Linked DNA regions of Homo sapiens. The protein of the gene in region 2 interacts with the protein of the main gene of each other region in a pairwise test. Each region holds a gene or a part of one and is shown on either strand. Other genes may lie near its edges.

Region 1 (3,741 bases), on a different chromosome or scaffold from region 2:
GCCATTCCCTCTCACAAGGTGCCTACCCATCTCCTGTGCTCCAGGGAAGGCCCAGGAGTCTGCGGATGACTAACCCTTTTTTCTCTTCTCCCAGAAAAGTCTTCCTCAATGTCATCACTCAATATTGCGAAGCACATGCCCCATCGAGCCTACTGGGCAGAGCAGCAGAGCAGGGTTGGAGGGGCTGGGGAGACTGGGCGTTTCGGTGGGGTAGGGGATAGGCAAATTGGGGGTTGATAGGATATGAAAGTTGGGGGTGGTTGGCAGGGTGGAGGGGCAGGCAGGCTGGTTGGGGGTTTGGGGGCCACAGGGAGGAGGTGGGGGCATTTCAGCTGTGGGCAGAGATGAAGTACCTGGACGCCTAAGCCTCTTGCTGCTTCTCCAGCTGCCACTGCCCCTGATGGAACTCATGGAGAATGAAGCTCTGGAAATCCTCACCAAAGCCCTCCGGAGTAAGCTCCCCGCCAACCCCCAAGAACTCCCACGACAGATTCTGGTGGATTTTGCAGGGCTGGGGCCCAGGGGGGTGGGGTTTCAGGGTGCCTTATGTCTTGTCAGATGCCCTTGGCACTCACAAGTATTCCAAGGGCCCCATAAAAGTTAAAAGCTGAGGGACTGGGCACAGGAAGACCCAGTGGGGGACATGTGGTGATGGGCAGAGGCCTGGGCTCCAGGCTGAGTGCAGCCCCTCTCCAGCTGAGGGAGGCTTTTCTGTGGCTGTTTCTCCACCTGCACAGTGGGATGACCGCCTTGGTGTGGCCTCGACTGCCTCTGGTTGGGGAGTTGTGAGGAGCCTTTGGACAGTGGATTATGTGGGTGAACTTTTGCTGCTGTGGTAGGAAAGCCCAGCGGTGATAAAGGGCCAGCTGATGGCTTAGAGTGGGTGGCTGGTCCAGAAGGTGGGCAAACTGCTCGCTACCACCGCCCTAGTTCAGGCCTGCAACCTCTTCCCTAGCCTTGACCTCATCCATCCTCCACCTTAACACTCAGCACCCTTAGAGATGCAAAGTTCCCCAGGCTAACACAGACCTGAGTGCCCTGCGCTACTGCTACCTCGAATCATCTGCGGTTCCTCGAATCACACATGCGGCGCCCCCTGGTGGGGAGACCTTTCGGTTGCTCACTGCCCTGAGCCGAGCTCTGCCCTCCTCCTAGGCTACCAGTTAGGGATCGGCAGGGACCACTTCCTGACTAAGGAGCTGCAGCGATACATCGAAGGGCTCAAGAAGCGCCGGAGCAAGAGGCTGTACGTGAATTAAAAACGCCACCTTGGGCTCGAGCAGCGACCCGAACCAGCCCCGTGCCAGCCCGGTCCCCAGACCCAAGCCTGACCCCATCCGAGTGGAATTTGAGTCCTAAAGAAATAAAAGAGTCGATGCATGGTCCGTGAGTCAGTGCAGGACAGCCCGCGTGAGGCGGACGCACGTGGCCCCGCCCTTCCCCGTGACCTTCATTCGGTCACCGCAGTGACCTTCATTCGGTCACCGCAGTGACCTTGAGCTTTCTCCGTCCGGGCCCTATCGGCCCTACCTTCCGGGACTCGCAATCCAGGACTTATTGCATGTTTTAAGTCGGCTTCACCCACCCCGAGTTCCGCAGCTCTGTGGGGCTACTGGGTCTACGGTTCGAGTGCTCAGTTGGTGTCGCTTTGGGGGAAGGGGGTAGGGGGAACGGGGCAGCACCTCCCTCCTCGCGACGGCGCGCTAGGCTCCGCCCCTCAAGCATAGGTAGCAGGTCCAGCCTCTCCGCTCGTCCCGCCCTTGCGTTTTCATCTGTAAGTGGTCTCTTGGCTCCGCGACTGCAGCCTGCACCGCCTCGCCCACTCCTCTCGCGCGCAGCAAGCCCCGCCTCCTCCGTTACGAAAGAGCGCTTCTGGCCCCACTTGCTCTCGGCTCTATTGTCCCCGCCCTCCGCGTCTCCGGCCCCGCCCCTCCCAGGGGCCGCGTACGCATGTGCGCCGCAGTGGCTCGGCGGGCTGCGGGGCGGGACCTGCACGAAGGCCCGCCCACTGGCGCTGCCGGCTCCGCCCCGACTCGTCCGGGCGCGCAGGCGCCGCCCGCCCCGCTGGTCTGATTAGCATAGGACCCCGGGCCCCGCCCCCTGCTTTGCATGCGCACGGCCGGCCCCACCCCCGCTGTCAGCTGGAGGAAGCGGAGTAGGAAGCGGCCGCGATGTCCTTTTGTGTCCTACAAGCAGCCGGCGGCGCCGCCGAGTGAGGGGACGCGGCGCGGTGGGGCGGCGCGGCCCGAGGAGGCGGCGGAGGAGGGGCCGCCCGCGGCCCCCGGCTCACTCCGGCACTCCGGGCCGCTCGGCCCCCATGCCTGCCCGACCGCGCTGCCGGAGCCCCAGGTCCGGGGGCGGAGGGGAGCGCTGCCGCGGGGGTGGGCGGGCGGGGCGCGGGGGCCATGTGCGAGCGCGGCAGGGAGGCGGGCGGGGCGGGCTGCAGGCGGGGTCCGACTCTGGGGCCAGTCCGGGCCACGGTTGGGACCCAGTCGAGGGTCGGACTGGTCAGGGTTCAGGCGGGATCCGGCGTCCGAGTCCTGGTGGGCCGGCCTGGGGCAGGATCTGGCTCTGGCTGCGGGTCCTGACTCGGGTCAGGGTTGGGCCTCCGATCCAGCCCGCTCCGGGGCAGGGTTCAATCCCGCATTTGCCGAAGTCCCTGGGGCTGGCCGGGGTGGAAGACGGGGAGGGCTCTATGTCTGGGAAGGGGCTCTGAAGACCACGTGGGGGCGCTCGAAGGGGCCTGGGGCCACCCTCCTCTCTGGGTCAAAGGTCATCGCACCGGCAGGGGAGAACTTCCTCCTCCTTGGCTCTCCCCACTTACTTCCTGATAACCTGGTAGAGGTCTCCCGCGGGCGGGGAGGGGGAGGCGTAGCAACTTTAGGCAACTTCCCAAAGGTGTGCGCAGGTTGGGGGCGGGACGCGGCGCCCCGGGAGGTGGCGGCCTCTGCGACAGCGGGAGTATAAGAGTGGACCTGCAGGCTGGTCGCGAGGAGGTGGAGCGGCGCCCGCCGTGTGCCTGGGACCGGCATGCTGGGGCAGGAGGGCAGCCGCGTGTCAGGTGTGAAAAGCTCTGGAGGTGTTTTCATGAGTCCGTGCCTGTGCGTGTGGATGTGGGGAGACCTAGTGAGAGTGTGTGTGATCATGAGCCTTGACTGAGTTCGTGGATGGGGTGTGCGCTCCAGGAGAAGTGTGTGAGCACAAGTGTGAGCAGGAGTGAGCACGGGTTTGGGAAGGCCGGTGCAAGTGTGAAAGCCCTCAGCAGAGAGCGAGCCTGCGTGGGCTTGTGGGGCTCCTGAGCACCCCGGTGAGTGGAGTGTGTGAACTCGGTGTGAGCACGTCCACTGGCCTTGGGTCTGCTCTCCAATGCAGAATACCCAGATGAGGGCAGGGTCTCAGAGGTCCCCCCAACATCTGGAGAAAACTGGGAAGTATCCTGCTCCTGGCTAGGGATTCCAGGTGGGGTTGAAGGTTGCCTGGGGGCTACGGTTACCCTGCTCCCTGGCCTGGGTGGGAGTAGGGGCTTTCTAAGCCTCCCCCAGGTTCCCAAGGGGGAGACCTGCTGTCAGTTACTGGCCCTGAAGACTCTGTTTCCATGGCAACAGCTAGGAGGGGGCAGTGTTCCTGGGCAGTCCTTCCTTGGACTCTGCCCCCCTTCTTCCCCACTTGCTGGGCTTGGAAGCCTGGCCCTAGGCCCGAGGTTGGGCAACCCGTGTGGCAGGGTGTCTCCCATCCCCCATA
Region 2 (3,741 bases):
TCACCTGAGGTCAGGAGTTCATAGACCAACCTGACCAACACAGTGAAACTCCATCTCTACTAAAAATACAAAAATCAGCTGAGCGTGGTGGTGCCCACCTGTAGTCCCAGCTACTCGGGAGGCTGAGGCAGGAGAATCACTTGAACCCGGGAGGCAGAGGATGCACTGAGCCGAAATTGCGCCACTGCACTCCAGCCTGGCGCCACTGCACTCCAGCCTGGTGACAAAGCAAGACTCCGTCTAAAAAAAAAAAAATTAGCTGGGTATGGTGGTGCATACCTGTAATCCCAGCTACTCGGGAGGCTGAGGCAGGGGAATCGCTTGAACCCAGGAGGCAGAGGTTGCAGTGAGTGGAGATCGCTCCATTGCACTCCAGCCTGGGCAACACAGCAAGGCTCTCAAAAAAAAAAAAAAAAAAGGCTGGGCATGATGGCTCATGCCTGTAATCCTAGTACTTTGGGAGGTTGAAGCGGGCAGATCACTTGAGGTCAGGGGTTGCAGAAAAGCCTGGCCAAAAAAAAAATTAGCTGGGCGTGGTGGCAGTCGCCTGTAATCCCACCTACTTGGGAGGCTGAGGCAGGAGAATCCCTTGAACCCGGGAGATGGAGGTTGCAGTGAGCTGAGATCGCGCCATTGCACTCCAGCCTGGGCAACAAGAGTAAAACTCCGTCTCGAAAATAAATAAATAAATAACAATTTGGTATTTCATCCATCATGGACTCTTTTGCACTGATTTTTTTATGTTTAAAGTGTTGGACTAGCCAGGTGTGGTGACTCGCGCCTGTAATCCCAGCACTGTGGGAGGCCCAGACAGAAGGATCATTTAAGCCCAGACATTCGAGACCACCCTGGATAACATAATGAGATCCTCGTCTCTACAAAAATAAAAATAAAAAATAAATTGCACTAAAATACTTGATTATTGAAGTTTGAAATCCACTTCTACGGGCACGAAGCCACTTAGCTCCAAAGCCAAGGAGCGCTTTGGAGAAGAGGTCCCAACTGGTGCAGATCCAAGGTTTCCCATGGGTGGGGAGGCAGGATGGGGGGGGCGCCTGCAAAGAGGTGAGGGCTGTACGATCTCCAAGGAATTTGGGAGCAGGGGTCCCGCTTTTCTCCGCCGGGCGCCCCCAGCCAGCTGGTTGCCGAGCCCACGCCCCATCTGCACACCAGGACCCGGATGTGCAGCGCGCGGGGTGTCTGGGCCCGTGGAGCCTGCACCGCGCTGCGCTGCAAGGCGCCTCACTGTACGCACTGGCGGCCGTTGCGGCGGAGCAACCATCCCCTGCCCGACGCCGCCGGGAGTCTGGAGACGCACCTGGCGGCCGCCGCGCGCAGGAAGCCACGGCACCTAGCTGCATTGTTGTCGCTGCCACCGCCCCCTCTCGCCTTCCCTCCCTAGAGGAAACCGAGCACCCGTCCCCACCTGCGCAGGGCTAGTACCACTTTAAGGAGTCAGGCGCCGCCGGGGTAGGCGTGGTCGCCGCGAGCGGGGGGGGGGGCGCTGGTGTAGGACGGACCTGATTGGCCGGAGGCCCGGGCGGTGGCCGCGCGCGCCTGCGCAGGAGGCAGCAGCGCGCACCGGCGGCGGGAGGAGCGCGCGCGGGTGCTAATTGGCCCGGGCGGCGGCCCCGCCCGCGAGTGGTGAGCGGTCACGTGACGCGACGGCTGGGGGCTCCCGGCGCGGGGGACGCTGGTGACCAAGATGGCGGCGGAGCTGGTGGAGGCCAAAGTGAGTGAGCGGTGGCGGCGCCGGCCGGGGCAAGTGGGCGAGAGGGCGGGGGCCGGGCCGCAGGTCGAGGTCTGCGCCTTCTGTCCGGGGCCCCACAGCGCGGCCGGCCCGCGGCTCGCCGTCCCGGCCCCCAGACCCCGACCCCCGGTCTCAGGGTGAGGGCGGGGGGCGGGGAGGCCGGGGGCGGGGCCCTCCTGCCTCACCCAGGTCTTCGCGCCGGGGGTCGCTCCCCCGGCTTCAGGCAGGGTCCCCCCACCCAGCCCGAGCCCTTAGGGTCCCGGTCCCTGAGCGCCAGGCCAGGGCCGCGCCTCCCGGTTGAGGCACCGTCCCGCCGGGATGCGGGACGTGTTGAGCTACTCGTTGCCCTCTTGGTTCCGAGCCGGGGTCCTTGCTTTTTGGCTGGTGTGTTGGGGGGAGTGTCTGCGCCTCCCCGCCCACAGGGCTCCCAGGACTGCTATCTGGGTCTCGTCCCCGCCCAACAGGCCAGGCTGGGGTTTGCGAGTCTCCTGCTCGGAAGGGTCCCCCGAGTCCTGGATAGTGTCCTGCCACCGTCCAGGTGGAGGAGTCAGGGCCCTGAGACCACCCCCAAGACACGGCACGTCCTCTTGGGGTCTGGAGTTCAGGCTCGGTCTTGAGCCCCTCTTCAGCTCCTGCATTGGTCCCAGAACCCCGCCCCCTTCCCGACACCGTCTCTCACACGCCGGAGTGGGCGCTTGGGGGAAGGCTGGGCCCTCCCTTTCCCTCCCCATAGGATGGAGTTCGGACCACTCTTCTTGGTCACAGACCTTCTTTATTCTCCTTTTTTTAATCTTAAATCCTGGACTGTGCTTTGGTCCTACCTCGTTCCTCTCGGGACAGAATCTGAGGCTACTGATTCTGCTTCAGGGGGCTCTAAACCTCACCTGTGCAGCATCAGATACTGTCCTCAAACCTTGGCTGCTTCTCCTATTTTCTGCTCTTGAGCGAGTCTACTTCTTAGGTCAGACACCCACCCTCCCCCTACACAGCCCCCAGAACTTTTATGCACCCCAACTTTGGTTTCTAAGGTCCCCTCTCTTTCTGCCTATTCTCTTTTGTTGATCTCTGGAGGGTCCCCACTGGGTCCAAGGCTGGCCTCTTTAGAACAACTGTTGCTGCTGCTCTATTATACTTTGGGTCCTGTCCAGGTCCCATGTCCCATAGATACCATCTCCTAGCTTGGAACCACTTTTAATCATCCTGGGATTGAGCTCAGAGTATCCCCATTCCAGGGGATGTACCTTCTTGTAGGTGCCTACCTAGAGCTGAGGGTCTAAAACCCTTAGAAGTGCCCGCAAGGCCACGGCTTCCGGGGAGGTTAGGGGACCTCTCCCTCCCCCATCCCCTTTCACATCTTCCCTCCCCACGGTCCTGACCTGTACGTATCTTCTTCTCGGTCCTCTCACATTACCCCCTGGGATCTGAAAACACAGCACTCAGGGCTCTGTGATTATAGCATATACCTCTCTTCGCCTCCCAACCCTACACCCCTGCGCACACTTCTGCTCCTCTCTAGAGTTTTGAAAAGTGGAGACTCGCCCTGGAGATGTGGAGGCCTGAACTCTGTAAACCCAAAGTGGCAGGCTCTGGGCTTGAAGTGTCCTGGAGTCCTGAAATGTAACCTCCCGTTTCGGGGCTTGGAGCTGTGACCCTGGACCCCAACCCCCACCCTGGCTGAGGGCAGGGTCTGCACTCTTTTGTACCATCCAGGCCTTGAAATATGATCTGATGAACTTTCCTTAACCCTCTGGTGGCTGGGCCCCCCCCCACCCCAATTAAATCAAGTTGACCCTTCTTTCAGGTTCTCTAAACCGTGAGCCTCCATTCAAGGGGGCCTGGACCCTGGGGAACCTTCTTTCTCCTTGAGTCTGTTGCTACCTCTCCAAGTACCTTAAATGTCATTGAAACATCCCCTTCTTTACAGGGGCCTTCCCCAGCCTGTCATATTCATGGCTGCAGATTCTGTCTTTTGGGGTGCATCACAGACTGCT

Evidence for each region. The genes of interacting proteins can lie anywhere in the genome.
Region 1: the proteins of PIAS4 (region 2) and ESRRA interact in binary tests that used the Homo sapiens proteins (3 or more experiments, as listed by UniProt).

What each region holds. Positions count from the first base shown.
Region 1 is NC_000011.10:64,303,388-64,307,128, forward strand, and holds the start of ESRRA (steroid hormone receptor ERR1), read left to right. Parts: upstream 1-2,136; 5' UTR 2,137-2,349; intron 2,350-2,490; exon of another isoform or gene 2,491-3,741. Other genes in the region: CATSPERZ (cation channel sperm-associated auxiliary subunit zeta), read left to right, coding at 95-174, 386-452, 1,156-1,259. UniProt on the Homo sapiens protein: Binds to an ERR-alpha response element (ERRE) containing a single consensus half-site, 5'-TNAAGGTCA-3'. Can bind to the medium-chain acyl coenzyme A dehydrogenase (MCAD) response element NRRE-1 and may act as an important regulator of MCAD promoter.
Region 2 is NC_000019.10:4,006,056-4,009,796, forward strand, and holds the start of PIAS4 (E3 SUMO-protein ligase PIAS4), read left to right. Parts: upstream 1-1,680; 5' UTR 1,681-1,705; coding exon 1,706-1,732; intron 1,733-3,741.